Homo sapiens: one gene and its partners. The protein of the gene in region 4 interacts with the protein of the main gene of each other region in a pairwise test. Each region holds a gene or a part of one and is shown on either strand. Other genes may lie near its edges.

What was found.
Region 1: the proteins of WFDC2 (region 4) and CYB5R3 interact in binary tests that used the Homo sapiens proteins (3 or more experiments, as listed by UniProt).
Region 2: the proteins of WFDC2 (region 4) and PTN interact in a two-hybrid assay, tested with the Homo sapiens proteins (one large-scale study listed by BioGRID and IntAct).
Region 3: the proteins of WFDC2 (region 4) and GORAB interact in binary tests that used the Homo sapiens proteins (3 or more experiments, as listed by UniProt).
Region 5: the proteins of WFDC2 (region 4) and SLC22A23 interact in binary tests that used the Homo sapiens proteins (3 or more experiments, as listed by UniProt).

Annotation. Positions count from the first base shown.
Region 1 is NC_000022.11:42,623,976-42,630,594, forward strand, and holds part of CYB5R3 (NADH-cytochrome b5 reductase 3), read right to left. Parts: intron 4,307-6,619; coding exon 4,177-4,306; intron 3,714-4,176; coding exon 3,630-3,713; intron 3,415-3,629; coding exon 3,329-3,414; intron 1-3,328. UniProt on the Homo sapiens protein: Catalyzes the reduction of two molecules of cytochrome b5 using NADH as the electron donor.
Region 2 is NC_000007.14:137,226,704-137,233,322, forward strand, and holds the end of PTN (pleiotrophin isoform 1 precursor), read right to left. Parts: intron 1,373-6,619; coding exon 1,317-1,372; 3' UTR 638-1,316; downstream 1-637.
Region 3 is NC_000001.11:170,546,078-170,551,780, reverse strand, and holds part of GORAB (RAB6-interacting golgin), read right to left. Parts: intron 1-5,703.
Region 4 is NC_000020.11:45,471,430-45,478,048, reverse strand, and holds part of WFDC2 (WAP four-disulfide core domain protein 2 precursor), read right to left. Parts: intron 1-6,619.
Region 5 is NC_000006.12:3,284,274-3,290,892, forward strand, and holds part of SLC22A23 (solute carrier family 22 member 23), read right to left. Parts: intron 5,594-6,619; coding exon 5,491-5,593; intron 2,819-5,490; coding exon 2,586-2,818; intron 839-2,585; coding exon 806-838; intron 1-805.

The DNA of each region.
Region 1 (6,619 bases), on a different chromosome or scaffold from region 4:
CCCGCCTGCGGGCCACACGCTTGCGGAGCTTTCAGGAGGGGACTCGGCCAGAGATCACCCTGGCACCCCTCTCTCCTTGTCTAGCCTAAGGAGCCCCTCAAAGCTGCTGCTGAAGGGGCGAAGGCGTTCGCTAGAAACTCAGTGTGTCAACTGCTTCTGCTGTTGTGAGGAAATGGGCTCGATGTCCCGAGAGTGGGAAAAATGGAAAAAACTAAAGGCGGCCAAGCTGCGCGACAGCAAAAAGGGAAGAGACGGGAAATGTGCCAAGATACTCCAGGGGGTCAGCCCGGGAGCGGGTGTAACACATACAATAAGCAATGGCCCCGTGAGAAGGCTCAGGATTTGCACCCTCAGCCCTCCGGCAAGTCTTTTTGCGTTCTGGGATCTCATTCAGGTTGTACCTCCAGAAACCAGGAAGTACAGACACCACTCCCCACCCAACCTGGCCCCCTCGGGCCTTGCCCACACCCATCCTCCTGGCTGGCCTGCGGCTCCCCCACCCCCACCCGGCTGTCACAGAGCCCTACAGAACTCAGTCCAGCGTCATCCCTTCCAGGAAAGCTTCCTGGACCCTCCAGGGGCTATCAGGGATCTCCCCCTGAATCCCCCACCCGACTCCCCGCCCCCCACCCCCGTTCCACCTCTGATCACATCACAGGCTGCTGCCCAGCGTTTGCAGGTCACACAGGGACAGAAGGGGCTCCTTAGGTCAGTGTGCAGTGTCCCTGACCTCAGGGAACTCAAAGAAACCAGGGGCCAAAGAGCGCTGCCACCCAGAAAGGGCTGCCCACTAACAAATCGCTACTGAGCTCCCAGGCTGGGCAAGGGCGGGGTGGACTCTCCCCAGGAGGCAGCCACAGACGTGACTCCTCTGTTCCCAGGGCTGGGGAACTGCACCCACCCTCCGCGTAGCCCAAGGGTGCCTGAATACGGGAATCACCAGCTCCTTGGTGCTCCCCTCCAGCAGATGAGCTGTGTGAGGGGCATAAGCCTCAACACATCCCAGGGAACACGGGGTGTTGAACAGTTTTTCCAGTTTCTGAGGGTGGGAGGCTGAGGGCCCTTTCTGCCCTAATGGGGTGAGGACAGGGACAGGGACAGGCTTTGGGCTAGATGAACTCAAGGAAAAAAATACAGAAAATATGGAAGAAAAAGTACCTGAAACCCTTCAGAAATAATGACTGTTAGGATTTTTGTGTGCATCTTTTCACTTTTCTTTTTCTATTAACTATGTGTAACTTTCTTTTTAGGCCAGGCATGGTGGCTCATGCCTGTAATCTCAGCACTTTGGGAGGCTGAGGTGGGTGGATCACTTGAGCTCATGAGTTCGAGACCAGCCTGGCCAACATGGTGAAACCCCGTCTCTACTAAAAATATAAAGAATTAGCTGGATGTGGTGGCGGGCACCTGTAATCGCAGCTACTCAGGTAGCTGAGGCAGGACAATCGCTTGAACCCGGGAGGCGGAGGTTGCAGTGAGCCGAGATTCACGCCATTGCACTCCAGCCTGGGCAATAAGAGTGAAATTCCGTCTCAATTTTTTTAAAAAAAGTTATGTCTTCCTCTCTGAGCTAAAGTGTGTCTCATGCTTTAATCCTCACCACCATCCTTTGAGGTGGCCACCGCCGCGACCCACCTGACAGATGAACAGAGGGATGGAACCTTGGGGGGCTGCTACTCGAGGGTAGGGGGCTCCCAGCTCAAAACCAGGCACTGAGGTCACGGAGGAAGGTAGGAGAGGAAACGAGCAGCAATGACCCGACTGGCACGGTTCTCGGAGTGTAGCATGGGGACCCCTGGGGTTGGGACCCTGGAGAGGATCCCTGAGGCCAAATGGTTTTCATATAATACTGAGACACTGGTATTTTTCACTCTTCCTCTCTCAGTAGATGGGGCCACTTTCCAGAGGCTGCGTGACTGGCAACATCACACAGATGGGATGTAGAAACAAACACAGGAATCTAGCTGTCCTATGAAGCCAGACATTCCAAGGTTTGCAAAAACGTAAAACAGAATGATGTTTTCTAAAATAGTTTTTTAAAAATAAAAATAGGCTGGGTACTGTGGCTCACGCCTGTAATCCCAACACTTTGGGAGGCTGAGGCGGGTGGATCACCTGAGGTCAGGAGTTCGAGACCAGCCTGGCCAACATGGTAAAACCCCATCTCTACTAAAAATATAAAAATTAGCCGGGCATGGTGGCACACATCCTGTAATCCCAGCTACTCGGGAGGCTGAGGCAGGAGAATCACTTGAACCCGGGAGGCGGAGGTTGCAGTGAGCCAGGATTGTGCCATTGCACTCCAGCCTGAGGGACAAGAGCGAGACTTTGTATCAAAATAAATAAATAAATAAAACCCTGGTTTGCATCCTGGTTTCAGCACTTCCCACGAGACATGCACAGTCAAGCCCCTCCCGGAGCCTGTGTTCGGAGGTATGAGATGAGGCGACCACACTGCCCTCGCTACCAGCTGCAAAGATGGCCTGTACAGGTGACAGACGGTCTGACGGCCTCCACAGACTCTGAACCAGCACCACCAAGTCTCACTGCTGCCCTCTCTCCCTCCACACCAGCCAGCTTAGAATTTCTGGCTCTTTCTCCCCTGGGCCTGGCAAGGCCATCTTGGTTGGCCTTGCGGCAGTTTTCTGCAGCTGCGGGGAGGCAGGGTGGGGCAAGGACCCACATCCAAGGACCTCAGGCAAGCATCTTCTCCCCCAAATCTACGTCATCAGTCACAAAACACTAACCTGAAAAGACCTTGCAACAACCCAGTTTCATCAGCTCATTCTACAGATGAGGGAGTGAAGCTCAGAGAGGGAAAGTAGCTCGTCCAAGACCACACAGCAGGCCAGGGCGGGCAGGCAGGCAGTGGGCTCGTGGACAAGGATATGAATCAGGAGCCAGAGACACCAACATTCAAATCCTGCCCTGACACCCTGTAGCTCAGGGGCTTCGTGCAAATGTCTGGTCATTTGTAAGATGGGCCCCTCCATGTCCAGGCCAGCATTCTTCCCACTCTACCAGTGGGTTCCACACCGTGCTCATGGTGAAGGGAGTTCTGAGTTTTGGAGGAAGCAGCCAGGGGAGGGGGTGCTCAGGGAGCTCCCCGCAAGGCAGCCCCCTCAGCCAGACACAGGCGCTGCACCACAAAGCCTGCCCGCCGTGCTGCTGCCAAGGCCGCCAGTGCACAGAACATTCAGGGCCCCCCATCCCGGTCATCCCCAGAATCTCAGCAGAGCTGTGCAGACCCCTGGAACAGCACCTGACCAGGCCCGAAGTCCCCTCTCAGGGTAAGCTGAGTTTCCCCATCATGGGGATGCCCACTGACCTGGTTGGCAAAGAGCAGGTGGCACACAGTGTGGTCATCAGGGTCCTTCATGATGGCGCGGATCACCTGCAGCATCGGGGTGATGCCTGCAAAATAGCCGGCCGGGCCTCGCACGTGCTGAGCGAGGCCTGTTCACAGGCACCGCCCCGCCCAGGTGTACTGGGGTGGAGGGGCCAGGACCACTGGGCCTGGGCCCCTGACCTCTGGTAGCTCCCAGGCACTCAGAACCTGCGCCTCACCCACACCCCAACCCCACCCTTAACATGAGCCGCCGGACGCCTCAGTGGGGGGTTCCGTGTACCTGTCCCTCCCGCGATCATGCCCACAGACTTCACTGTCCTGATGATAGGGTTGGACTTTTTGTCAGGTCGGATGGCGAACTTCCCTGGGGAGAGAGAAGGGGTGAGGCCCGGCCATCAAACATGCCATGTGTGGTGGCTGGAGAGGCTGGAGAGGGGGCTGGAGAACCTGCCCCCACTGTGAGGTCCGAGGTAGAGGCAGCTGCCATTCTAACGCGAGCCATGAGGAAGGTGCAGGAGCAGTGGAGAGGCTGGGAACCCGGAGGCTCAGCTCTGTCCTCTTGCTTGCTTGTTTCAGATGCTGAGAAAGCCAAATAGAGGCTGGCAGTGGGTGAGACGTGGCCCCCAGGAGTGGCCTGTCTGCAACCCCTGTGCCAGCAACTTACCCCCTCTACAGCCAGGGAGACTCAGTTCCCAGAGAGGGACAGCTGGCCTGACGAGAGTCACCCATCCACACAGAGCCAGGGGCCTGCACCCTGCACCCAGCACGCCCAAGCTCTCCAATTCTCTGAGCCTGCCGTGTAACCAAGGGATTCCGACCCGAATCACCTTTGCCCTGGTAGACCAGCAGCCCACTGGGGCCCCGGAACTCAATGGTGTCTCCAATCTGCATGCTCTCCAGGTACTGAGACATCTTCCCTCCAGCGGGAAACTTGGGATGGGTGTCCTTGAAGTAAACCTGCAAGACACCCCCGCAGCCCTCAGTCCCCAGCTCCAGGTCTCAGGGGCGAGCTCTTGCCCACAGTGGGAGACAAGTGCCTCTTCTGCAGCTTCTTCTGAGGCCCACACATGGCCTTCTCCCGTGGAGCCCCATCCACCCAGCCGTCAAATCCTACCTGTCCTGCACCCCGTCCTTCACCCCGTCCTCCCAGGAGTCAGCCTCCACCTGACATATCCGGGGAAAGCAAACCACCAGCCTCGTGTACAAGGCCGACCAACTCCAGGGCTGGATGCACTCACATTTCACCAACTGTCTCTGGGGCCCCCTCCCAACGGGAGACACTGAACCCGTCAGCAAAGTCAAGGCTCTGGGAGGCCCACTAAGCCACACTCCTCCTGGTGGACACTCAGTCCCTTCCGTTTTGTGCTGTCGCTAAAAACCTCCCTCACTCTTGGGACTACTTCCTGCCCTGCACTCTCTAGGATTACTGTCTTGGGAAAGAGAAGGGCCTCAATCCGACACCTACAAAGAAATGGGGAGACAGAGGAGGAGCGGCTCACCCTGCCCAAGGAGTCTGATGGATGGAGAAGGGGAAGGTGGCTGGGGGAGGGACAGCGTGTACACAGTGCCTCAGGGAGGGGAGCCTGTTGTGGCTTCAGCACAGAGGGTGGCTATGGGGTGTGGAGGCAGAGGGGAGTGGAGGGCCACGGACAGGCAGGCAGAGCACACTGTCCTGGGCCCTGGGTGCCAGGCCAGGACTCTAACCTTTATCAAGGACCAAGGGAGCCAGCCAGGTCTCCAAGCCAGGAGAGGCCTGGTCACCTGTGAGTTTTTCATCCTCAATTTGAATCCTCCTAATAGCTTCTCCACATTTGGCCAGAGAGACTTCAACGTGAACAGATGCTTGAGCCCTCATCACCTCCTCTGTGCTTCTGGACAAAGCCCCAAACCTTACTGGGGCCTCCAAGGCCCCGTCTGGCCCCACTGACCTCTCCCACCCCTTGCCCCAACCCTCCAGCCACTTCAATCCTTGAGCCTGCTGCTGACTTCAGGGCCTTTGCACCTGAAGCTCCTTTTCTTCCTTCTTCACCTGGTCAGTGCCTACTCAGCCCCAGATCTCACCTTCACTGTCACCTGCTAGGGAGCCACTCTCACCAGCCAACCCCACCCATCCCTGGTGGCCCTTCTGGAAGCTCGGTCGCAGGTACCTGTCCCCTGCAGGGAGCACTGGCTTCCCCATGACTATGTGTCCAGTGTCCGTCCTCCAGCCAAAGACGGGCTCCTGAGGCCAGGCCTGGGCGCCCCAGCAAGGAAGGAGCCCGGGCCAGGGCCCTTCCCACCCTTCAGATCCAGTGCCTGCCCCCAGACCTGGCAAGGTAAGGGCCTCAGCTACGGCCCAGTAAGGGGGCTCCAGGGGTACCTGAGGGTGCTGGGCTGGGGAGGCTATAGGGCTTTGGCCTTGATTGGGGAGGGTCTCCAACACCCCACATACCCACTGGTCTAGGCTGCTTCTCACCCTCTGTTCTGCAGGAAAGCTTGTATTTCTTTTTTTTTGACTGGCTCTCATTCTATTGCCCAGGCTGGAGTACAGTAGCATGATCTTGGCTTACTGCAACCTCTGCCTCCCAGCTTCAAGTGATTCTCCTGCCTCAGCCTCCCAAGTAGCTGGGATTACAGGTGCGCACCACCATGCCCAGCTAATTTTTTTGTATTTTTAGTAGAGACGGGGTTTCTCCATGTCGGCCAGGCTGGTCTCTAACTCCTGACCTCAGGTGATCCACCCGCCTTGGCCTCCCAAAGTGGCTTACAGGTGTGAGCCACTGTGCCTGGCTGAAAGCTTGTATTTCTAATTTTCATAAAAACGTCCCTGCTGGGGCCGTCATGCTGCCTCTTACTTCCCACTCGGCATGTGTGTTTCAGGTTCCGGGCTGCTGCCCCTAACGCCTGCATCTTCTCCTGTGAACCTCCACCTCGAACCCCGCAGCAGACCCCAGAAAGCCCATCACCCCAGCTCCCAGACAACACCACACGAGCCCCTCACATGTTTCCCTAGCAGGCCTGAGGGACATTTCTTAGGGAAACGGGTAAGAACAGGGCCTGCGTGTCACAGAGGCCCGGCCGCTGACCACGGTGGAGTGGCTGCCTCACCCCGCACACTCGGGACCCAACTCCCAGGGATCTCCCAGCGTGAGAGCAGGGACGGGACTGCGCCGTCACACCTCGCAGCAGGGGCGTCTGTACCGCCAGCCGGCCTTCCTGGAGCCTCTGCTGCAGGTACCTGTCCTTGTTTGAAGGCACTTGCCCTGAACCCTGGCCCCTGTTCTCTGCCAA
Region 2 (6,619 bases), on a different chromosome or scaffold from region 4:
AGCATGTAATTATATATTTTATAGGTAGCCCAGGGTAGACTGAAATCATCATTTCCTAAAACGGACTTAGCAATTATCTTGGTAGATAGGTGTTTGTTTATTGAGTCTTATCACTTTAGAATTAAAGAGCATGTCAAGAGAAATACTTTAAAGATAATCCCAGAGAATTTTCTATTATTCCCTGAATAATAGGAGAACAGATTTGTTTACTTAAAAGTTGTGCTTAGAGGCCAACAGATAACGAAGTTGTACAGATAGCCTTTGGCACTCATGGCATGTAACAAAGTGAAAATTTTTGGTTTATGGAAACTAAGCCCAAACTACCATTTTGCACATCATTACAGTGATCCTGATTTGGACTGTTGCTAGCCCACATATATCCACTATAAGAGCATTTTCCTGCTCCACTAAACCCTAGACTATTGTGAAATTTTTGTTGAATTCATTAGTACCAATTTAACCTATTAATTACTGATAGAAAATACAAAAAAAAAAAAAAAAACTATGGGACCTTTGTGCCCAAGAGTGACTTAGCTAGTTTGTATGACGATTTCTCTGTGCTAATAAGTTGACTGGGGAAGTATAAATGACTAAAGGAGTAGGGTTACAAAATCACATTATTGAACACAAAAACAACTTTTTTTTTCAGCATCACCTTGATTTATTTTCCTAGTATTTTTTTCCTCAGATGGAAAAATAATTTCATCAAGAAAACAAATGCTTCTGCCAAAGTGAAAGAATTTTATGTCTTAATGCTTTTCTTTAAAAAAAAAAAAAGTCAACATTGAACTAGGACATGCTCTGCTTCCCCACCCCCATTTTGCTGACTACATTTTAAAAAATCTATTGGCAGAAAACAAGATATTTTCTTCAAATAGAGTGATTATGTTTTATTGCTATTTTGTTTAGTATATATTTTTCTCAATTGGGAAAAAAATCTAGGTGAAAAAAATTACCTAACAAGAGAAGTAGTTTACATAGTCATAACATTTAAATTGCTGCCCAAAAAATGTAAAAAAAATTTAATGTAAAATGTCACATAATTTCAAAAAACTTACCTCAATTGTCTATCATTTATCATGTACTATAAGTCAACTTCCTAAATAAGATTACAGTCCTTTATTATAAGCCCCTACTGGTACTATAGTATACATTTAAAAAACGCTACTACAAAAATTTTCTTTTCTTTTTGTTTTTGCTTATTGTGTACTTAGCTATAGATAATTTTTGAATACAAAGCCTACGGTACATATAAATGCAATAGTTAACTGATCCTGTTTGCTGATGTCCTTTTTATGTTCCACAGGTGACATCTTTTAATCCAGCATCTTCTCCTGTTTCTTGCCTTCCTTTTTCTTCTTCTTAGATTCTGCTGTGATTACAAAAAAGAGAGACAGAAAGAGAGAAAGAGAAAAATGTCAAGTTACTAAATTGCAGGGAAGAAATAGCCACATTTCTTATAATTGACCAGACTGATACACAAGTTGTTTGCTCTTGGTAGTTCTCTTGGTAAACTGAGAAAACACTATGTGTATGTGCATGTGTGTGTGTGTGTCTGTCTGTCTGTCTGTCTGCTTTTGACAAAAGAGTGCCTGTGAGAGTGGGCAGGAGGAACATAGCCTGCTTCTGTGTTAATTCTACAAATGCCTGTTATCTTACTGGTTGCCTTTGTTTGATAGGCAAGATATTGACTTGGGGTCCTGCTTAGAAAATAGAAATACAGCAGACATCTCTTAGTAAATTACCCAGGTCACTGCTCAATGGAAAACTACAAGAGCTCTGCTTAGCCCCTCATTTCCCCCATTCCCTTTCCGTAGGACTCTTTGATAGTATATTTTCTGAGCAAACAATTGCAAAGTGGTTCCACTCCAGGTCGGCCCTCTGCTTATATATTTGGCCAGCTATCTATGTAAAAAGAACCGGCTATAAACCATATGTACTCTCTCTGGAGCTTTGCCTACAGGAACTCCTAGTTTGGGGTAAAACAAATGGAATGTGTCAACATAGGCTGTAGGAAAGTAAAACATTGAGGATTTCAATCAAAAGACTCCATTCTTTTCCATTCAACCATCTTTCCACTTCTCTTTTCCTAACAGGAGAATGCAATGTAGAATAGAACACATCTAATTTGGCTCCAAAGACAAAAATGGTCAGAATCACTGGGTTAGCAAGTGAGGGGATATTGCTAAATATTTCTGAGCCACTTCTCCAATTTGGTCCATAGTAGTGGCAGAAATATACTGGTTAAGTACAGGCTCTGGAGTCAGACTGCTGAAGTTTAAATCCTGGCCACATCATTAAGTTACTGTGAGACACTGAGAAAGTTACTTAATGTATTTGTTTCTTAGATTACTCATCTTTAAATAGGCATATGAAAAGTACCATAGCATATGATAGTAAGCATACGGTTTATATCCAAATTAAACCTGTTCTATAAAATCTACTGAGAACAGAACATGATACAATAGCATGTGCTCAATTAAGGTTAGCATTTATCATTAGGGTGATAATAGAGCAAGAACAAGAGATCATTACCCTGTATAATTAAAATCCTTAATCATTATCAAGGCATATTGATTGAGCAGGTCAATGAATGTGCTAAGCAACATAGGGTCACTGGGACAAAAACAATGACCAACAGGGATGAGGTCATTGTTCACTGGAGCATACAGCCTGTGTCCAAGAGGACCATAAGACTTATGAAGACAGAAGATATGATATGATGCCAACTAGAAATATTGTATATTTCTCAGCTCATACTTAAGTAGAGCTGGAAACTTTTCCATTTCTATATACTATCTTCATGACCTCTTCAAGTAGGTTCCAAAGTCCATTACACACTAGTAGTATTTCTGTTCAATGTAATTGTCCTAATCTTCCTTTACTCAAACTTCAAGGGTACACTATATGCAAGTGGGTCAGCAGTTTCTAAACCCAGGCTAAATTGTTGTCCATAATTGTATTCATTCCATTCATGACTTCCCAAGTTTGCCCCATTTCTATACTAAAGAAATTTAACTTTTCACGCTCTCTATTTTTGTTTGTTTTCTCAAATATCTTTCTTTCACCCTATGAGAGGTGTAATGACCAGAATTTCCAAGTGAAAGATACATTTTAGATCAAAGGAGACATTATGTGTAATTTCCGAAAAATTATTCAGTGTCTGAAAATGTAATAATTCCCAATTTTTGGTCAACATTTTAGGCAACAGCTGTATATTAGGATGGTATCTTCAGAGAACAATGTAGGATTTCAACTGAGACCTAACTCTGGTTTTCCCTCTCTCAGTTTCCTCATGTCCCTTCCTGGAAAACCCTCAGGAACTTGTTATCTTCTAGGTCTCCAGTAGAGTGGATATCTAAGTAGCAATTTTCATATTTTGGCTAACATGTTCCTATTTCATACATAAGTCTGAGCAGATGACATACTAACCAGGTTTTTGTATAAAAGTTTCATAAAACTTAAAATTATTCTGAACATTGGACACTATTTGATCTGTTAATGTAAGGTTGTCCATTTCAAAGAACACTTTGGGAATAGGAATCTGTCACCAAATTCTTCTTGGTAAAGGCAAGAGCACATTCTTAGGTAACCCTGAACCTGACATTGGTGTCTTATTCCTTAATTGACAACTTGCTAAATACCAGGAAATCAACAATTTGCTTATTAAATCTGTACAATGTCAATCAACTTATTCTTCTGACACAAGTGGCAAGTAATCATGGTACTGTCCGGACACCCTGCAGAACTTGAGTCTACTCTGGGCTCAATCTAAAGAGAAAAATAAAGAGTCTTCAGTAAAAAGTAGTGGAAGGAGGGAAGAATTCATATTTGCAATAAGGTCAGTTTAGTTTTTTACATAACAAAGTGTTCAAATTTTTGTGAAAAAAAATCAGGTCAGTAATATTGCTTCCAATCGAAAGCAGTTTTTTGTGACTTTTATGTACATTCAACTGAAAGACTAAATGAGCTTTGTCACTGCTTATCTCTGTGGCCTCAAAAACTTATTAACAACCTCTCAATCTTTACCTAGTATACATGATGGGTTTAAAATAGTATCACAAAATCTATGACCTAGAAAGAACGTGGTCCAACGCCCTTACGTAATAGATGAAGAAACTGAAACATTCACATTGCCCCTCTTTACTTCCATCTTCATACTTATGCTTATTTTAGTTCCCCAAATACATCTTTTCTCTTTGTCTGTTTTTCTCTCTAGTCTCTGGCCTTCAAATTCACTCTTCATTTCATCAACCCCACACTTCCACTACGACATGTCTCATTAATGCCTCCCATCCTTCAGGTACCAGCATTGACATCACTTCTAGTTTGCTGACCTCGCAGTGTGAGTTAGAAGTTGTTTCTCTTTCCTGCTCTTGTTAGAGCACCTATCTCTAGCATTGTAACTGCCACCAAAATACAAGCTGCGAGAGGGTGCAGTTTCTACTCTCTGTTGTACCTCCAACCCATGGCACAGGGCCTTGTGTGTAAAAGCTGATTAGTAAAGCTTTAGTGAAAATAAATGGATCCATAACATGGTGATAATATGTCTCACCCATCTTCCTTATGACGGTTCTTTGACTTTTCTTTGCTTCTTTCCATCTTATCCTTTTCATATTATTTCCTCTTGGCCTGAGTGTTCCTTCTCCTACTACCCCAATTTGCACAGTCAGCACCTAGTCATCCTTAAAATCTTAGCCTCAACTGCATTTTCTCAGGGAAGCCCTCCAAGAGCTCTCAGATAAGCAGATTCCGTGCACAGACACTCTCATTGTGCCTCCCATTGATTTTTCCAAAACTAGAATTGAACTATTAATTTTGTCTCTAATTATTTGGTATGTGTTTTTCCTTTCCTATGACAATAGAGACCCTATCTGTATGTTGCAACTGTATATTCTGTGCCTGAGATATAACAAGCATTCATGAAATACTTGTTGCATGCGGAGTGGATAAATGAATACTTGAATGGGAAATAGTTCAACCCATTACTATATAGAAAAGAGTATTTCTCAAGGAAAGTAAGGAGTGTAAATCCAATTAGAATCTTGTCAAATTTCAGTCTATCTTTAAAGACAAATATTTTATGAAGAAGAAAACTTACAAACATACGTATATGAAATTTATCCAGGTTTCTTAAAACTTTGTCTTTAGAATAGAGACCTGATTAAACTCTGTGGGTAAAACTGTCCCAGTTTAGTCGCCTTTCAAGGTTAGAGAGAAATGTTTACTATGAGATGTGGGTCACAAATTAGCCTGGAGCAGGGCTATAATTAGTTAAAGCCAAGTGCTTTTTTATTGAAGTCATATAGCGGCTACTCTAGAAGGTTCTGAGAGCCAATAGGATTCCTACCCTGATGTGAACAGTAGGGCACTTTAGTTCACATTGAACAGAGCCAAATCAAGAGAAGGAAGTACACATACACCACACATCAAATAACACCCCGGGCCACATGTCCCTTGTCCCTGCCTGGATTGAGGCTGCAAAGCAGAAATGGATATAAACAGAGAATGAGCCATTGTCAACATGTGAAAGTAAAGGGCACCTGCCTGAAAGGTGACTTGTTCTGTTCCTACCAGGACATCACTGCACTGGAATCTCACAGCAGTGCCCTGGGTAGATTTTAACTTCCTGGGTTTTCAAACTTTCATCCTTTCTTTGGCCAGTTTTTGAGTTGATAGAGGCTAGTACTCATAATAATTGGGATACAGAGATGAGAAAAAATAGTAGGTGTGTATTTTTGTAACTTTGTGGGGGGTTTTTAAATACAAATACATTGTTTTAAGATACGTTTGAAAGTGTTCAGAAAGTCCTAAGGCTTTACTAAGAAAAAGTACTCTAGAAAGGATTCAGGCTTCTTACATTGCTATGAATCATAGGATCCAAAGGGCCATGTTCACCATATTCAATCTAGAAAACTCAGAATTTATCCAAGGAAATTCTTTGAATGCATAACAACTCCTGATAAGAAAGAAGACAGGCAGTGATATGGTTTGACTCTGTGTCCCCACCCAAATCTCACCTTGAATTGTAATCCCCATAATCCCCATGTGTCAAGGGCAGGACCAGATGGAGGTAATTGGATCATGGCGGCAGTTTCCCCCATGCTATTCTGTGATAGTGAGTGAGTCTTATGAGAGTTGATGGTTTTATAAGTGTCTGGCATCTCCCCTGCTTGCATTCATTCTCTTTCCTGCCACCCTGTGAAGAGGTGCCTTCCGCCATGATTGTATGTTTCCTGAGGTCTCCCCAGCTATGTGGAACTGTGAGGGAATTAAACCTCTTTTCTTTATAGATTACCCAGTTCTGGGTATTTCTTCATAGCAGCACGAGAATGGGCTAATACAGTAAATGCAGTGAGAAGAATGAGTAGAAATTAATATGAGCCGTGTTACAATTCTGAGCCCATGTGTTTTTTTCTATGCTGAATAGAAAACAAAATCTTGATAAATGCTAACGTATTAAGTGACACCATGGCCTTTAGGTACGGTGAGACAATGAAAAAATCATGAAGTTTTGTTAGAATCATACTAAGAACTAAGCCCTAATCTAGAGAATTGGTTCAAATAGATGTTTGCCACTTACCAGCTCTGTGATCTTGTGCAGATCAATCATTCTGCC
Region 3 (5,703 bases), on a different chromosome or scaffold from region 4:
GAATGTTTTCTTTACAAAGCTGTTTTTGAGTGAAGGCAGGCTAAAAGGTTAATTCAGTGGTATGCTAGTTCTGGGGTGGGAGGATGGGGAGCCCTGATTTGTAGCGTTTACATTTCCATGGGATAATTACTACCACCCTGTCCAATTTCAAGCCACCAACGTGATATTACTGAATGCAGAACTGGGAAGAGATACACAAAATCCACATGAACCAGGGTAAGCTAGCTTCAGCACACAGCTGGTTAAATTTATGAGAAGACAGACAAGAGATGGAGAAAGTGGAAAATTGTTCTCTTGATTAATAAATTAGAAAAAAAGAAAAATTCTGATGGAGAAAGATACGGACAGTGGTCGGGAGATGAATATAAATGGAACAGAGCACACCCAGCAAAATGATACTGGGTGAGGGCAAGAAGTAAACATCAAGTAGAAAACCTCAGGATAGCTATATGCAGGATTTCTCAACCTTGGTGCTACTGACAATTTGGGCCATATAATTATTTGTTGTGAGAAGCTGTCCTGCACTGCAAGATGCTAAACAGCATCACTGGCTTCTACCCATTAGTTGCCAGTAATTCCCAAAATTTATGACAACCAAAAATGTCCCCAGGCATTGCCAAATGTCCCTTATTGGACACAAATGCTCCCAGTTGAGAATCCTTGGGTTAAGTTGTTCTCATTCTCTCCACTACTCCTCTTACACTCTTACTAGGAAATTTTACATAGTTACACATGTATAAACTCTGTTGACAGGTAATCTTATGTGAAGTCTTATGTGAAATAGGGCAATTCTACTAGAGAAGTCACCTTGCAATCTCACTTTTTTTCTTCTGCATTAGGTCAGTACAAAAAGAAGAGTTATCGTGTCTTAATTTATTGTCTTTTGCCTTTTCTATAAAATTTGTTGCTTTTCTTTTTGCAACAAGAGGGTCCTTCCTCTCTTGCAAGAAAAAAGATTGATTTCCAACTAGTTCTTTAATTTCATTACCATTAGCAGTTGTGAAGGCCATGCTGCTTTACCTGTTATGAGTGCCTACATCAACTTAGTGTAATAAGTAGCTTCTAGTACAAGAGTTATAGCAAAAAAGAAACAGGTATATCTCCTAATTTAGGATTCTCTGTCTTGGAAGAAAATACAGTGAAAATAATAAATGGCTTTCATTTTAGAAAACTCAGGGTTCAAAACCTTCCTGACATTTACCATGTGTACCCATTTCGGTCAAGGCTTCTTGTGGATACAAAGAACAGATATCCAGTCAAACTAGCTCAGGTAAAAATTGGGTTTTATTGTAGGATACACGAGGCAATTTCATAGTCATGTCATCAGAATCAAAGGCTATTCTTTTCAATGCTTAGAAGCGACACATTTTCTCTCATTTCAGCTTTCCTATCATACTCACAGGCCAATATGGCCACCACCTGCACTCTGTATCAAATTCACTCCACCCAATCTCTCAGTGATCCAATTCCACACTCTCAGAGGAGAACATAGGTTTGCCCGGCTCATCTCAGTTTAAACAGAACTCTTAGTGTCAGGCCATGCCGTGAACCACTATTTAGCCTATGGATTAAATGTACTGGAGTCGGTAGCCCATCACTATTCTAATTAGGTATGCCCCAGGTCAGCATCCTGAGTCCAAAACACAGCCAGGTTCCTCTGGAAGGGGTTGGGGAAGAGGCATGCAATAACTGAAAATTCCGGCACAGTGACTCTGAGCAGTTACTTAAGCTGAGTCTTGGTCTACCTGTAAAACAATGATGATAATAATACCTCATAGGAGTTTTGAAGATTAAACAGTATAAATGGGGCAAACTTCCAGTTTTGTGCCTGGTAGGTGCTCAAGAAACAGAACTTCTCATTTAGAACACCAGAATCAAAAAGTACTGTTAATATATTAGTAAGCATGAATCTAAAATTAAGATTATGGAAAATTTAGGGACCTGGTATTTATACTTGAAAACTCATTTACATAATGTTAATTTATCCTATTTCCTTTTTTAACTGTAAATATAGTAAATGTAAAAATGAGAGCACCCATTATCTTTCAATAACCCTCTATGTTAAAAGAATTGTTCTAAAGGAACTCTACTGGATACCTAGTTCCCTTATCTCCATACTTTATAACATACCCTGTTCATGTAATGTTCTTGCAACAAGACAAGAGTTCTGACATTCTCTATAGGTGTATGAATACCCTGCCCTGACCCTGCCTCAAACCTCCCTTTTCTGCAAGTCTGTGGTCTCCTTCAGCCAGTCAAAGTCAATCAGTAGAGATTTACAGTCTGGATTCATGAATACTGAATTGAAATTAACATTTGCGAACAGGTCCCTTGGTTTCCATTGATCTATCACCCTGGATAAATCACTGAAGATTTTGTATTTTGTTTATTTATTTAAAGTCCTTCTGGCCAGAAATACGAATATATATTCTCCCACAGAGTGATTTAATGTTTAAAATATTGATTAGTTTCACAAACTGCACTACCAGCCTATGGTCAGGTGGGTAATACCAAATTAGTGTATGATGACATTCTGGAACAAAATAATAAGAGCATTATACATAACACAGTAAGACAGAGTGAACTGGAAATGTAATTATAGAACTGTTTTGTTATTTTAAAGGGGGATGGAATGAATTAATGAATGTTATTTTTAAAGGATTCTAGAAATTGTCTCTTTGTTTTGGTATCCCCTGAAATGTTTAAAAACTCAACCATTAACCCTCAGTATACCACTGGGTTCCACGGGTCCACTTTTAGTTTTTCAGTTCCTTTTCTGAGCAGTTCTCACTATTTGTATAAATTAGCATTTCATAATTTTTATCTTTTCTTAAGTCTTTCAAATAATGAGAAAATTTACTTATTTAAAAAAACAGAATAAAATAAATTATATTTTGCAATTACCAGAGAGGTCCAAAGAACCCTTTCATAAATCTAAGATATATTATAGGATTATTGCAGTATTTTTATATTTCCTGTATCTTGAAACATTTTGCCATTTCATCATCCTAGGAATTATTTCATCATTACTTATCAATTATTCCCTTTTGTAATAAAAAGAAATTAAAATAAGAAAATGATCTGAAAGGATGATGCAATAACTTATCATTGTTGAGCTTCTTTACTGTGCTGTACAAAGTATCATGTCACCTCCAGAAAGTATAAAAGAAGACTGAAAACACCATTTTTGTAACCTGTTTTTAGTTTTCATTTTCTGCCTATCCAGTATTTGCAAAGTGGAGACAACTGACAGAGGAAGACATCTTGCCACTGTTAAAGAAATCAAAAGATGAATGGTGTGGTAGGCTAAAAAATGGCCTCCCAAAGATATTCACTTTCTAATTCCTGGGACCTGTGAATATTACTTTCTATGACAAATGAGTGAAAATTATCTTATATGGAAAAAGATGTGATTAAGATAAAGGTTTTGAGGAGTTTATTCCAGATTATCCAGCTGGACCCTAAGTGTAATCACATGCATCTTTTTAAGAGAAAGGCAGAGGAAGTTTAGAGAGAGAAGAAAAAGCAACATAACTATGGAGGCACAGAATGGCATGGCGTGGCCACAAGCCAAGGGATGCCCACAGCCACCAGAAGCTGGAAGAGGCAAGAAATGGATACCTAGAGTCTCTGAAGAAATCACAAATCTGACACCTTGATTTTGGATATGTGGCCTCCAGAAATGAAAGAGAAGTAATTTCTGTTGTTTTAAGTCACCCAGTTTGGATTACTTCTTATGGTAGTCTTAGGAAACTAATACAAATGCAGAGACACATTCTAGAGTCTAGATGATAAAATCGATCATATGTGAAATCTCAGATGAGTCTTCAGCAAAACATATCCTAGGTGAATTTTCTCAAACTTAAGAATCAGTCAGTAAAAAATATATTTCTAAGCATAGAAAGGAAAAATGATTTTATCATAGAGTTAATCATTTCAGCAGGGAGAACATACACCCAATATTTTACAAGTATCTAGACTATCTTGTGTTGCTACAAGGATGTAACTATACTCTCTCAGCTTTTTATGTTTGTGAGTCAAACATTACTTGATACAAAGATGGTTACCATGCTTACATTCTTATTAAAATTTTAAAGTTGTTTTACACAATCCCTTTTAATCTTACTTTTAAAAATTACTCATAAAGTGATTTAAAAATATTCGTCTGTGGGTGTATGTTTGCATGTATGAGGGTGTCTATGAAACCTAGATGGTCAATAGTGATTTAAAAAAATGTTCTACATGCAGCCACTCTGGATTTTATAAACTGGTCTGCACAGCATATGGCAACATTGTAATCCCAGTGGTGAACAGTAGCAGTAGTAGCAGTAGCAGCAGTAGCAGCAGTAGCAGCAGTAGCAGCAGTAGCAGCAGCAGCAGCAGCAACTCTCTCAAATTGGCTCAAAGTGCTAGTCTTCTCAGAGGTGTCTATCCAAACACTGCTCTACAGAAGCCAATTTTAAAGCAAGTTCTGGCCTATTCACTATCCAAGAACCTTTTGTGGACATAGCACTGTACCAAATACTATAGAACTAAGATATCATTTTTATTAAAAAAAGAAAAAACAAGGAAATCTCCCATAAAAACTGACTGTCCTAGGGATTATCTTTCACTTCAAATCTGGACCATAATATTATTTTACCGATCTGTAATTTCTCAATAACCACAAATGCAAGTTTAGAAAATAATACCTTAATCTTACGCATGAACAAGACACACTACGGTTCTAGTCACCAAAGTCTTTGTTTCCCTTTGACTCAACGCAAGAGCTTCGGCTTTTGAAAATAGCAGCACATGGCCAGGCGTGGTGGCTCACACCTGTAATCCCAGAACTTTGGGAGGCTGAGGCAGGCGGATCACCTGAGGTCAAGAGTTGGAGACCAGCCTGGCCAACATGGTGAAACCCCATCTCTATTAAAAATACAAAAAATTAGCCAGGTGTGGTGGTGGGCACCTATAGTTGGGCTACTCAGGAGGCTGAGGCAGGAGGATCGCTTGAATCTGGGAGGCGGAGGTTGCAGTGAGCCAAAATCGCACCACTGCACTCCAGCCTGGGCAATAAGAGTGATACTCCGTCTCAAAAACCTAAAAATAAAAACAAAAATAGTGGCACACAACATCTACTTACATTCAACTACATCAATATTAGTACCATGAGAAACTGTCATCTGTAACTTACTAAAGATTTAAAAATTTACTAAAATTTCATTTAGGATACTTATAGACTATAGGATGTTTTTTCCTTTAGTAATCCCACCTTCTTTGTTGTGGTTCTTAGAAGGCTAAAACTATGACATTTCTTATATAATACTGAATATGAAAAAGCGTCTTTCTCCAGTTTCCACTAGGACAAAATTAAAATCAAATTACTTTTCTTTCTTTTTTTTTTTTGAGACGGAGTCTCGCTCTGTTGCCCAGGCTGGAGTGCAGTGGCGCAATCTTGGCTCACTGCAAGATCCGCCTCCCAGGTTCACGCCATTCTCCTGCTTCAGCCTCCTGAGTAGCTGGGACTATAGGCGCCCACCACCACGCCCAGCTAATTTTTTGTATTTTTAGTACAGATGAAGTTTCACCGTGTTAGCCAGGATGGTCTTGAACTCCTGACCTCGTGATCCACCTGCCTTGGCCTCCCAAAATGCTGAGATTACAGGCGTGAGCCACCGTGCCCGGCCTCAAATTTCAACTGAGGTACCTAGTACTTCT
Region 4 (6,619 bases):
GCAGTCTGAAGTTGACCTGGAACTCTCAAGCTTGGTAGGGGGAGGGGCGTCCACCATTACTGAGGCTTGAGTAGGCAGTTTTCCCCTCACAGAGTAAACAAAGCCACCAGGAAGTTCAAACTGGGCAGAGCCCAACACAGCTCGGCAAAGCCGCTGTAGCCAGACTGCCTCTCTAGATTCCTCCTCTCTGGGCAGGGCATCTCTGAAAAAAAGGCAGCAGCCCTAGTCAGGGGCTTATAGGTAAAACTCCCATCTCCCTGGGACAGAGCACCTGGGGGAAGGGGCAGCTGTGGATGTGGCTTCAGCCTGCCTGCCGGTTCTGAAGAGAGCAGCAGATCTCCCAGCACAGCATTTGAGCTCTGCTAAGGGTCAGACTGCCTCCTCAAGTGAGTCCCTGATTTCCGTGTCTCCTGACTGGGAGACACCTTCCAGCAGGGGCTGACAGACACCTCATACAGGAGAGCTCTGGCTGGCATCTGGCGGGTGCCCCTCTGGGACAAAGCTTCTAGAGGAAGGAACAGGCAGCAATCTTTGCTGTTCTGCAGCCTCTGCTGGTGATAGCCAGGCAAACAGGGTCTGGAGTGGACCTCCAGCAAACGCCAACAGACCTGCAGCTGAGGGGCCTGATTGTTAGAAGGAAAACTAACAGAAAGGAATAGCATCAACATCAACAAAAAGGACGTCCACTCAGAAGGCCCATCCAAAGATCATCAACATCAAAGACCAAAGGTAGATAAATCCACGAAGATGGGGAGAAACCAGCACAAAAAGGCTGAAAATTCCAAAAACCAGAACACCTCTTCTCCAAAGGATCACAATTCCTCGCCAGCAAGGGAACAAAACTGGACGGAGAATGAGTTTGACAAATTGACAGAAGTAGGCTTCAGAAGGTGGGTAATAACAAACTCCTCCAAGCTAAAGGAGCATGTTCTAACCCCAATGCAAGAAAGGTAAGAACCTTGAAAAAAGGTTATAGGAATTGCTAACTAGATTAACCAGTTTAGAGAAGAACATAAATGACCTGATGGAGCTGAAAAACACAGCACGAGAACGTCATGAAGCCTATACAAGTATCAATAGCCGAATTGATCAAGCAGAAGAAGGATATCAGAGATTGAAGATCAATTTAATGAAATAAAGAATGAAGATGAGATTAGAGAAAAAATAATGAAAAGGAATGAATGAACAAAGCCTCCAAAAAATATGGGACTATGTGAAAAGACCAAACCTATGTTTGATTGATGTACCTGAAAGTGATGGGGAGAATGGAACCAAGTTGGAAAACACTGTTCAGGATATTATACAGGAGAACTTCCCCAACCTAGCAAGAAAGGCCAACATTCAAATTCAGGAAATACAGAGAACACCTCAAAGATACTCCTTGAGAAGAATAACCCCAAGACACATAATCATCAGATTCACCAAGGTTGAAATGAAGAAAAAAATGTTAAGGGCACCCAGAGAGAAAGGTTGGGTTACCCACTATGGGAGGCCCTTCAGACTAACTGCAGATCTCTCTGCAGAAACCCTGCAAACCAGAAGACAGTGGGGGCCAATATTCAATATTCTTAAAGAATTTTCAACCCAGAATTTCATATCCAGCCAAAGTAAGCTTCATACATGAAGGAGAAATAAAATCCTTTATAGACAAACAAATGCTGAGGGATTTTTCTCATCAACAGGCCTGCCTTACAAGGTCTCCTGAAAGGAGCACTAAACATAGAAAGGAACAACTGGAATCAGCAACTGCAAAAACATACCAAATTGTAAAGACCATCGACACTATGAAGAAACTGCATCAACTAATAGACAAAATAACCAGCTAGCATCATAATGACAGGATCAAACTCACACATAACAATATTAACCTTAAATGTAAACAGGCTAAATGCCCCAGTTAAAAGACAAAGACTGGCAAATTGGATAAAGAGTCAAGACCCATTGGTGTGCTGTATTCAGGAGACCCATCTCAAGTGCAAAGACACATAGGCTCAAAATAAAGGGATAGAGGAATATTTACCAAGCAAATGGAAAGCAAAAAAAAATCAGGGGTTGCAATTCTATTCTCTGATAAAACAGACTTTAAACCAACAAAGATCAAAAGAGACAAAGAAGGGCATTACACAATGGTAAAGGGATCAATGCAACAAGAAGAGCTAATTATGCTAAATATATATGCACCTAATACAGGAGCACCCTGATTCATAAAGCAAGTTCTTAGAGACCTACAAAGAGACTTAGACTCCGACATAATAATAGTGGGAAACTTTAACCCCCACTGTCAATATTAGACAGATCAATGAGACGGAAAATTAACAAAGATATCCAAGACTTGAACTCAGCTCTGGACCAAGCAGACCTAATAGACATCTACAGAACTCTCCACCCCAAATCAACAGAATATACATTCTCCTCAGCACCACATCACACTTATTCTAAAACTGACCACATAATTGGAAGTAAAACACTAATTAGCAAATGCAAAAGAACGGAAATCCTAACAGTCTCTCAGACCACAGTGCCATCAAATTAGAATTCAGGATTAAGAAACTCACTCAAGACCGCATAACCTTACATGGAAACTGAACAACCTGCTCCTGAATGACTACTAGGTAAATAACAAAATCAAGGCAGAAATAAATAAGTTCTTTGAAACCAATGAGAACAAAGACATAACATACCAGAATCTCTGAGACACAGCTAAAGCAGTGCTTAGAAGGAAATTTATAGCACTAAATGCCCACAAGGGAAAGCAGGAAAGATCCAAAATTGACACCCTAACATCACAATTAAAAGAACTAGAAAAGCAAGAACAAACAAATTCAAAAGCTAGCAGAAGACAAGAAATAACTAAGATCAGAGAGAACTAAAGGAGATAGAGACATGAAAAACCCTTCAAAAAAAATCAATGAATTCACAAGCTGGGTTTTTGAAAAACATCAACAAAATAGTCTGACTGCTAGCCATACTAATAAAGAAAAGAGAGAAGAATCAAATAGACACAATAAAAAATGACAAAGGGGATATCACCACTGATCCCACAGAAATACAATCTACCATCAGAGAATACTATAAACACCTCTACGCAAATAAACTAGAAAACCTAGAAGAAATGGATAAATTCCTGGACACATACACCCTCCCAAGTCTAAACCAGGAAGAAGTCGAATCCCTGAATCGACCAATAACAAGTTCCAAAATTGAGGCAGTAATTAATAGCCTACCAACCAAAAAAAGTCTGGGACCAGACAGATTCACAGCCGAATTCCACCAGAGGTACAAAGAGGAGTTGCTGGTACCATTCCTTCTGAAACTATTCCAAACAATAGAAAAAGAGAGCCTCCTCCCTAATTCATTTTATGAGGCCAGCATCATCCTGATACTAAAACCTGGCAGAGACACAATAACAAAAAAATTTCAGGTTAATATCCCTGATGAACATCAGTGCGAAAATCCTTAATAAAATGCTGGCAAACCAAATCCAGCAGCACATCAAAAAGCTTATCCACCATGATCAAGTTGGCTTTGTCCCTGGGATGCAAGGCTGGTTCAACATACACAAATCAATAAACGTAATCCATCACATAAGCAAAATCAATGACAAAAACCACATGATTATCTCAATAGATGCAGAAAAGGCCTTTGATAAAATTCAACACCCTTCATGCTAAAACACTCAATAAACTAGGTATTGATGGAAGGTATCTCAAAGTAACAAGAGCTATTTATGACAAACCCACAGCCAATATCATACTGAATGGGCAAAAGCTGGAAGCATTCCCTTTGAAAACCGGCACAAGACAAGCATGCTCTCTCTCACCACCCCTATTCAACATAGCATTAGAAATTCTGGCCAGGGCAATCAGTCAAGAGAAAGAAATAAAGGGTATTCAATTAGGAAAAGAGGAAGTCAAATTGTCCCTGTTTGCAGATGAAATGATTGTATATTTAGAAAACCCCATTATCTCAGCCCAAAATCTCCTTAAGCTGATAAGAAACTGCAGTAAAGTCTCAGGATACAAATCAATGTACAAAAATCACAAGTATTCCTATACACCAATAATAGACAGAGAGCCAAATCATGAGTGAATTCCCATTCACAATTGCTACAAAGAGAATAAAATACCTAGGAATACAACTTACAAGGGAGGTGAAGGACCTCTTCAAGGAGAACTACAAACCACTGCTCAACGAAATAAGAGAGGATACAAACAAATGGAAAAACAATCCATGCTCATGGATAAGAAGAATCAATATCGTGAAAATGGCTATACTGCCCAAAGTAATTTATAGATTCAATGCTATCCCCATCAAGCTATCACTGACTTTCTTCACAGAATTAGAAAAAACGACTTTAAATTTCATATGGAACCAAATAAAAGCCCACATAGCCAAGACAATCCTAAGCAAAAAGAACAAAGCTGGAAGCATCACGCTAACTGACTTCAAGCTATACTACAAGGCTACAGTAACCAAAACAGCATGGTACTGGTACCAAAACAGATATATAGACCAACAGAACAGAACAGAGGCCTCAGAAATAACACTACACATCTACAGCCACCTGATCTTTGACAAACATGGCAAAAACAAGCAATGGGGAAAGGATTCCCTATTTAATAAATGGTGTTGGGAAAACTGGCTAGCCATATGCAGAAAACTGAAACTGGACCCCTTTCCTTACACCTTATGCAAAAATTAACTCAAGATGGATTAAAGACTTAAATGTAAGACCTAAAACCATAAAAACCCTAGAAGAAAACCTAGGCAATACCATTCAGGACATAGGCATGGGCAAAGACTTCATGACTAAAACACCAAAAGCAATGGCAACAAAAGCCAAAATTGACAAATGGGATCCAATTAAACTACAGAGCTTCTGCACAGCAAAAGAAACTATCATCAGAGTGAACAGGCAGCCTACAGAATGGGAGAAAATTTTTGCACTCTATCCATCTGACAAAGGGCTAATATACAGAATCTACAAGAACTCAAACAAATTTACGAGAAAAAAACCCCATTAGAACGTGGGCGAAGGATATGAACAGATGCTTCTCAAAAGAAGACATTTATGCAGCCAACAAACATGAAAAATGCTCATCATCACTGGTCATTAGAGAAATGCAAATCAAAACCACAATGAGATAACATCTCACACCAGTTAGAATGGAGATCCTTAAAAAGTCAGGAAACAACAGATGCTGGAGAGGATGTGGAGAAATAGGAATGCTTTTACACTGTTCGTGGGAGTGTAAATTAGTTCAACCATTGTGGAAGAGAGTGTGGCCATTCCTCAAGGATCTAGAACAAGAAATACCATTTGACCCAGCAATCCCATTACTGGGTATATACCCAAAGGATTATAAATCATTCTACAATAAAGACACATGCACACATAGGTTTATTGCAGCACTGTTCACAATAGCAAAGACTTGGAACCAACGCAAATGCCCAAGACACATGCACACATAGGTTTATTGCAGCACTGTTCACAATAGCAAAGACTTGGAACCAACCCAAATGCCCATCAGTGATGGACTGGATAAAGGAAATGTGGCACGTCTACACCATGGAATACTATGCAGCCATAACAAATGATGAGTTCATGTCCTTTGCAGAGACATGGATGAAGCTGGAAACCATCATTCTCAGCAAACTAACACAAGAACAGAAAACCAAATACCGCATGTTCTCACTCATAAGTAGGAGTTGAACAATGAGAACACATGGACACAGGGAGGGGAACATCACACACCAGGGCCTGTCGGGGGGTTGGGAATTAGGGGAGGCATAGCATTAGGAGAAACACCTAATGTAGATGACGGGTTGATGGGTGAAGCAAACCACCATGGCACATGTATACCTATGTAACAAACCTGCACGTTCTGCACGTGTACCCCAGAACTTAAAGCATAAATACAAAAAAAAATGTTGTTAAGTTGCCAACAGTCTTGACTTCCTAATACAAAGAAATTCATTCTCTTGAAAGGAGTAGGAACCTGTAATATTGGGCTGCCCTGGAAATAAATAGGGAACCATTTATGATCAAAACAAGCCACTGTGTATGGAGTATCTTCTCACTAATAGACACTTTAGATGCATTATTTCATTTAGTCCTCATGCCAATCCTATAGAGTTTGGAATTATTCCCATCTTAGAGCAGAGGCTCAGAGAGGTAAACAACATGCTCAGGATCACATAACTAGAAAATGGCAGAACTAGGATTCAAACCTCCAGGCTGCCTCCCTGGCTCAGGAGGCCATCTGACCTTGTCCCTCTTCCTGCCTCAGTCTGTCCATCTGAGATAAGGGAACAAATTCTTCATCCATCAAACAGCAAAGACTCCCTCCTTTGCTCCTCCACCTCTCTCATCTGGCTGCTGCCTGCTTTCTCTCCAAATCTTCCTCTCTCCTTCTGGTCCTCCTCTCCCTGGCCCAGAGGAGGGGACTCATGACCTTGAAGCTGCCCTTGGTGGGCTGCCAGTCCCCCTCCACTTACCACCTCCCTGCTGATCGGTGTCTTGGGTCACCGTATTACAAACCTTCCCAGCCTGTGCTGGCATCTTCAAGGAAATAACAGAGAGGAAAAGTCACAGGGGCTGTATTCTGGATAAAGAACA
Region 5 (6,619 bases), on a different chromosome or scaffold from region 4:
CCCTGGTGCCACAGCGACATCCCTCTGCCCTGGCCTATGTTTGCTCCAGTCAGGTCTGATGTGCCCAACGTGTGGGACAGGGTAGCTGAGTCAGGGTTGATTTAAGGAAACAAAAACTCAAGCCACAGAATTTATGGGCCCAGAAGGCAAGTGTTCAACCCATCAAAGCCCTCGTAAATGGCACCGGAGACCGACCTCGCGCCAGGACAGGGTCTGGCACAGTGCACGGGCATGCTGTCAGGACCATACAGCTGGGGCTCAGCTCAGCTTCCCCAAGGCTGCATAGAGGGCAAGCACTCTCCAGGGACACGGGCGAGGGCTGGGGCAGGCCAGGCGGGTGCAGCAGCAGCTTCGAGGTGCAGGGCGGCACTGTGCTGTCCCCATGGGCTGCAGGGCAGCAAGCTTACATGAGTCAAAGGGGGACAGCGGCTTCCCCTGGCAGCACAGACAGCCGGGCCCCAGCACTCCCAGGCTTTCTCCCCCCACCCAGACAACTGTCCCTAAGACAAAGCATGTTGGCGCCGGGCCAGGGCCTGTGCTGAGCCTGGTGCCAGGGGAAGGGGCGGGGGCATGCGTGCCAAGCAGCACACAAACAGGGAAGCACCAGTCGCTCTTTCTAGAGGCAAGAGGGAGAATACAAATGTATCCGTATAGTGTCCAACCTACGGCCAACTTCAGCTGCAGTTCTTGGAGGGCAACGGGGAGAAAGAGAAAATGGAAACCACAGGTCCGTGAGTCTTCGAGAAAACACCCATTTAGATGTAATATGAGACGAGGAAGCACAGCCCACGCGCTTGGGACTCACCTGAGTCTGGGTGCTGGCTGTACTTTCCAATCACTGGACCCGCAGACATGATCGCACCCACACGGACAAGGGCCAAGCAAGCGAGAAGAGAGAAGAGAGCACATTAGGTGTGGAGTTAGCCTAGCGTGTTCCCATGCGACTTGGTTCAAGCAAACTCCCTTCCGTGTCTGGGATGGCGCTGGCCGCCGGGGCAGTGGAATTCATACTGCGCTAAACAAAGATCTTTTTGTTAGGAAGACAGGAGTGAGACCCTGCTGGCCTCAGAGCCTGAGGAGAAAATGGAACCTTCACAGTGAGACCCCAGCAGGTGCAAAGGGTGAGCTTCCTTGCATGTAAAGTCACCCACAGGTCACTGCCGCCTGCATTCAAGCTGCGTCAAGTGCTGTGGGGTGCCCCTGCCAGCCCCAGCTCTGCTCCTCACGGCTGCTTGGTGTTCGCCTGGGGCTCCTGTGCATTCCTGCTCAGGGCCAAAGGGGCACCACAACACCCGGGGGCTGAGGCACCCTGCCACTTCCGTCCCAACTGTGTGAGCAGGAGACTCCCTGGAAGGGCAGCTGGGGAACGGGGATGGAGGGAGACAGGCGCCACGTGTGCAATCCATTAGCTAAGCCTAACAGCAGTCTCCCAGCAAGGTATAGATTGCATAAGAACTGTCCAAGTTAGAAAGCTGCTCCTGAGTTTGAAGTGAGCCATCTCTAATCTAGGCTGCACGACAAGGCCGCTCTGATCTGGGTGCGGTGGACAGCCCTGGCGTCTAGTTCTGAGAGCCCGGGTTCATTTTCCTTGTAAAGGCAGGGGAGCTCTGTGGGGTCGATGTTCCCGCAGTGTCCTGAGCCTGTCCCAGGAGGACCGTGCCAGGGTGGGAGAAGAGGCTCATCGGTCCTGCCTGTTCACGTCGCGCCCTGGGCTGGCCACGGAGATGCTGTGGTGGTTTGTCCATACACGGGAATGGGTATTTGTTGGTGAGGAGCTATACAGAGCTTGCTGGAAGGGCCAGATGGACTCTCTAGCTTTGCCTTAGATTTTTTTTTTTTTTTTGAGATGGAGTCTTGCTCTGTCACCCAGGCTGGAGTGCAGTGCTGCGATCTCAGCTTACTGCAACCTCTGCCTCCCAAGTTCAAGTGATTCTTCTGCCTCAGCCTCCTGAGTAGCTGGGACTACAGGCGTGTACCACCAAGCCCAGCTAATTATTTTTTGTATATTTAGTAGAGATGGGGTTTCACTACATTGGTCAGGCTGGTTTGAACTCCTGACCTCATGATCCGACCGCCTCAGCCTCCCAAAGTGCTGGGATTACAGGCGTGAGCCACCGCACCCGGCCAGATTATTTTTAACCTTTACTGAGAAATTCTTTGGTCCAAAGAGAAGCTGATGAACTCGGGAACATCTGCTGAAAAGCAGGGCCCTAATGCAAGGGTGACAAAACAGATTTATTTCCCCCTTAATGTCACTCGAAAGAGACAATCCTTTGTTCTTCTTGGTCATGTGATGAATCACACAGAAGCAGTCTACCTATTAGCAAAGACTGGGCCACCAGGACTCGGAAGGAATCATGGTGCAGCCCGGGCCGGGGCAGGGGCAGGGGGAGGCGGGAAGGCCCAGTGCCCTCTAAGGCGGGCTCCACAGATGCTCTCAACTGAAGCTCTGTTCTCCCCAAAGCAGCTCCTTCCAGCAGTAGATTTTAGAGTGGCCAGCGGAGTCTTATGCAGCCCTTTCAAATGCCCTTGGGGATCTGCCAGCTTCCCTCCCTGCACCCAGCCCACCTCCCCGACCCACTCACGGTTGAGGAGGCCGAGCTGCAGGAGTGAGGCCAGGGCGGTGAGGATCATGAAGAGCAGCAGCCCTCCCCTGCGCCCGAGGAATCGGACCACCACGCACATGGCCAGGCAGGACACCAGCGCGATGCTGGCCGTGGTATAGTAGTCAGCATAGAAGTTCTCCAGGAGCGGCACCTTCACCTCGTGGCCCATCATGCTCCTGGCAAAGCAGTGGTGGATCCCGTACCCCGTCAGCCTGTGGAGACATACCGAGCGGCAGTGGGTGGGCTGCCCCCATGCCAGGGGCTGCGCTGCCTCCTGGGAGTTCGTGCTGTCAGGTGACCAGGAGATGAAGAAGCAACTCAATGTGTCATAGAAAAGCCCATCATGACCGAACCACGAGCAGATTACAGAGCCAATGCAAAAGAGGAGACGTGGGAGAAATATGGAATGCTTCTCCTGATGGAGGTCCAGGCTCATGCCCCACTACCATGGCTTTAATAGACAGGTGTGGGCACAAGAGCAGTGAGTCCTTTTGTTAAAACACACACTTTCATGGGAATCCTCCAAGACAAAGCGCTTTCCAGGTACTGACTCATTTAACCCAGGGCCGCAATCCAACAGCCACTGCACACCCACTTCACAGGGGCAGGGGGGCAGAGCAGCTCGCACGAGGCTCTCGGCGGGTAAGCGGCAACTCAGAGACGCAGCTTTTCTGGGCACTTAGGGTTCTGGAAGGGTGGAGATCTATCCATACCAGCCTCAACTCCACCCACACAGCCTGGAGGAGTCGGGCAGAAGCCAGGCCAATGGAAGACATATAGGGTCCACAGGAAACTGTTTTTTTTTTTGTTTTGTTTTGTTTTTGAGTAGAGCCGTGTTCTGCTACCCAAGCTGGAGTGCAGTGGCAAGATCTCAGCTCACTGCAACCTCCCCCTCCCTGGTTCAAGTGATTCTCCTGCTTCAGCCTCCCAAGTAGCTGGGATTACAGGCACCTGCCACCATGCCCAGCTAATTTTTGTATTTTTTGGTAGAGACAGGGTTTCACCATGTTGGACAGGCTGGCCTCGAACTCCTGATCTCAAGTGATCCGCCTGCCTTGGCTTCCCAAAGTGTTGGGATTACAGGTGTGAGCCACCGCACCCGGCCTCCGTTTTGATTCTTAATTTATCCCTGTTTCCCCTCCACTGCCCTGGGTCAAGCTTCTTTATTGCCCCACACGAGCGTATCAACCTGCTGGAAAAACGTGTCTGCCCTGAAAACAGGAACAAAGGCGTGGCTGCACCCTCCCACGGAGGCTGCTGATGGCCATCCATGGGGTGCCTCAGGGCTCTCAGGAACCTTTGGGGTGTACCTGTGATGCACCCGTGGTGCCTCGAGGGACCCTTCTTATGTCTGCTCTTGGCAACCATCCCAGAGCCAAAAACTGCCCCCTTCTCTCCCCAAACACCCTTTCGTGCTTCAGGGAAATCTACGTCCTTCTCATCTAACCTTGAGAATGCATCAAGGTCAACTGTAACAGACCCCGTCCCTGCCCCATAGGGGGAAGCCACCCCTTGCCAGGTGAATGCCTTTCCTCTTGGGAAATAGGCAGAGGCCCCAGCCCCCGCACAATGGCTTTATAATCCAGCAACTGATTTGGTTCAGTTAGCCTCCAGAGTTCCTCTTCTGGCCTGCTGAGATAGCAGGGCAATCTCCTACCTTCTTGCTCTGGTAGAAATGAAGTCTCCCCTGACCACAACAGGTCATCTGAAGATAACAGAGCCAGAGAGCTCGGTTCCCCGTCTCCACAAAACGAATCATTAAAATGGAAACTCACCATCTTATGTCAAATTTCATGTTTTTTTCCAACATAAAATGTAGAGAAGCCGTTCAACTCCTAACAGTGCCGCCAGCTCACCCAGCATCTACCTGAACCAGGCAGCAGCAGAGTGGCCAAGGCTGAGGCCCTGGGCTTGGCCTGATGTGGCCGTGGCCGGTCCCTGGCCTTGGTCTCTCTCCTGAGCTCAGGATGAGGCTCTACTGTTGTTTGGGCAGTAGAGCCTCTTGTACTCCTCACAAATCAATTTCAACCCAGAACCCCAATATGGAGAACTGATGAGCTGCTTTGACAGAAAAAGCCATGGGGGATGCTTGGCCCCTCGCCCTCACCCTGGGCCTGTCTTTACCTGGTGGCAGCTCGAGACCTTTCACAAATGAGTGCAACACCCCAGGTGACCTCTAACCCAAATGAGTCAAATCCCTTCCCTCCGCCACCTTGGTGACCTCTGACCCTGAACAAGGGACCACCTTGCACAGTCAGGGCCACTGAGCTCAAGACAGGAGTGACCTTCTAGGTACACACCAAGTCCAGGGACTGGGCTGCAAAGAACCTGCGTGAGTGATGCCCCCAGCCCCTGCAGGACCCAGCAGGCGGGGCGACCTGGGCCGGTGAGGGCCCTGGGAGGAGGTCTGCGCTCACTGGCCTGGCTCAGGCCCACCTGCCTCCACCCACGGCTGTCCTGGGGCCTTTGGCCAGGCTGGCTGCAGGTTCAGGAAGGGCGGGGCCGGCTACAGGCAGGGGCCAAGGCCTCATGGGTCTCAAATCCCCTGTCCTGAGACAGGGCCCAGAATTTCCAGCCTTGTGGCATCCCCCACTGTGCCCCTGAGGAGGTGCGTCCATGTGCATCTTGGTTTCCTGGACCTCATGGGCACGTGGTGGGGAGGCCCTGCTCACAGGATTTACACGCCTGGGCTGGGGGGCACCGGCTGCTTGAGGCTTCCGGGAGCGGGGGAGGTCAATATCTTCTAGCCCGTGTCACTCTTCACACACACACCCTTAGGATTCCAAGTTCAGCGGGGTGGGGAGCAGGGCCCTGGGCTTCACCACTCCCCACCTTCTTCCCTGGCCCCCTCCCACCCAGCTGGCACTTGTCCTCTGTGACTCACGAGTTCACACACAGGACCACAATGTTCTTCCACAGGTTCCGTGTCCCCACCACCTTCACGATGCAGACCTTCTTGGGCCTCCGGGAAAGCTCTTTCTCCAGCTCTGCAAAGAAACAGACCCTGTGAGCCCTGGGCAGGCCGCCCACAGAGGACAGGACAGCAGCTGCAGTCACAGCCCTGGTTCCCCAGTTCGGGTACCACAGAAGGGAGAGAGAAGCTTTTTTTTTTTTTTTTTTTTTGCCAGTGGATAGGGTCTAGGTTTCCAGGATAGAAAGGCACTCATAAGACCCCAGCTTTGCAGTTCAGGTTTCGCTCGGGTGCCTGAGAGGGCACCAAGGTGCACCGTCAGCAGAAGTTTCCATCACAAACCCTTGTTTTGGAACCAGTCAGAGTGCACACAAACGGTCTCGACTCAGTTCACTTTTGTCTGAGTACAGAGCTCAGCGATGATATTCTAGGTTACTGAGGCACTCATTAGGCCCTGGGCAAATCTAAACATGCAGTTCTTTTCCGTACACTCTACATCTGCCTGTGTCACCCCCGGCTCGGAGACTGGGAAGGCCACATGCAGATATGCTTCTTAGCCTTGTGGGGTGGAACTATGGCTGTAGCTACTTCTGCTGAAACTGCCCTTAGGACATCATATGCATCTTTGAAAGCCAAATACATAAGTGAACACATCTGCGTGTATGTGTATACACCATACATGCACACATTCATACGCATGCATATACGTGTGCATGTTTTAGTTAACAGAAGTCCTTGGGGGCTGGACAATATTTTGGCTCCAAGGGATGTGAGCAACTATAAAGTCATGAGACTGAGTTTCTTGTGCGGCTCCAGCGGCTCTGAAAGCCCCTCTGAAGGGAGTCCACCAGCGCACAGTGTTACATTCACCAGGCCAAGGGGTCTGCAGAGGTGCTGGTGTTGATCTGGCAATTTACAGGGAAGATTCAGAATGGTGGGGGTGCTGGCCTCCAGGAGCTGTCTGCTTGCACGTCTGGGAGCAGGAATGCCACCTCAGCCTTCTGTTGCCTCTCTGCCTTCCTAGCCTGGCATGTCTTCATGGAGTAATCCCCTACTGGGGAGCTAAAAAAGAAAAGGGAGACTTCCCGAAGCGGAGGGGAAC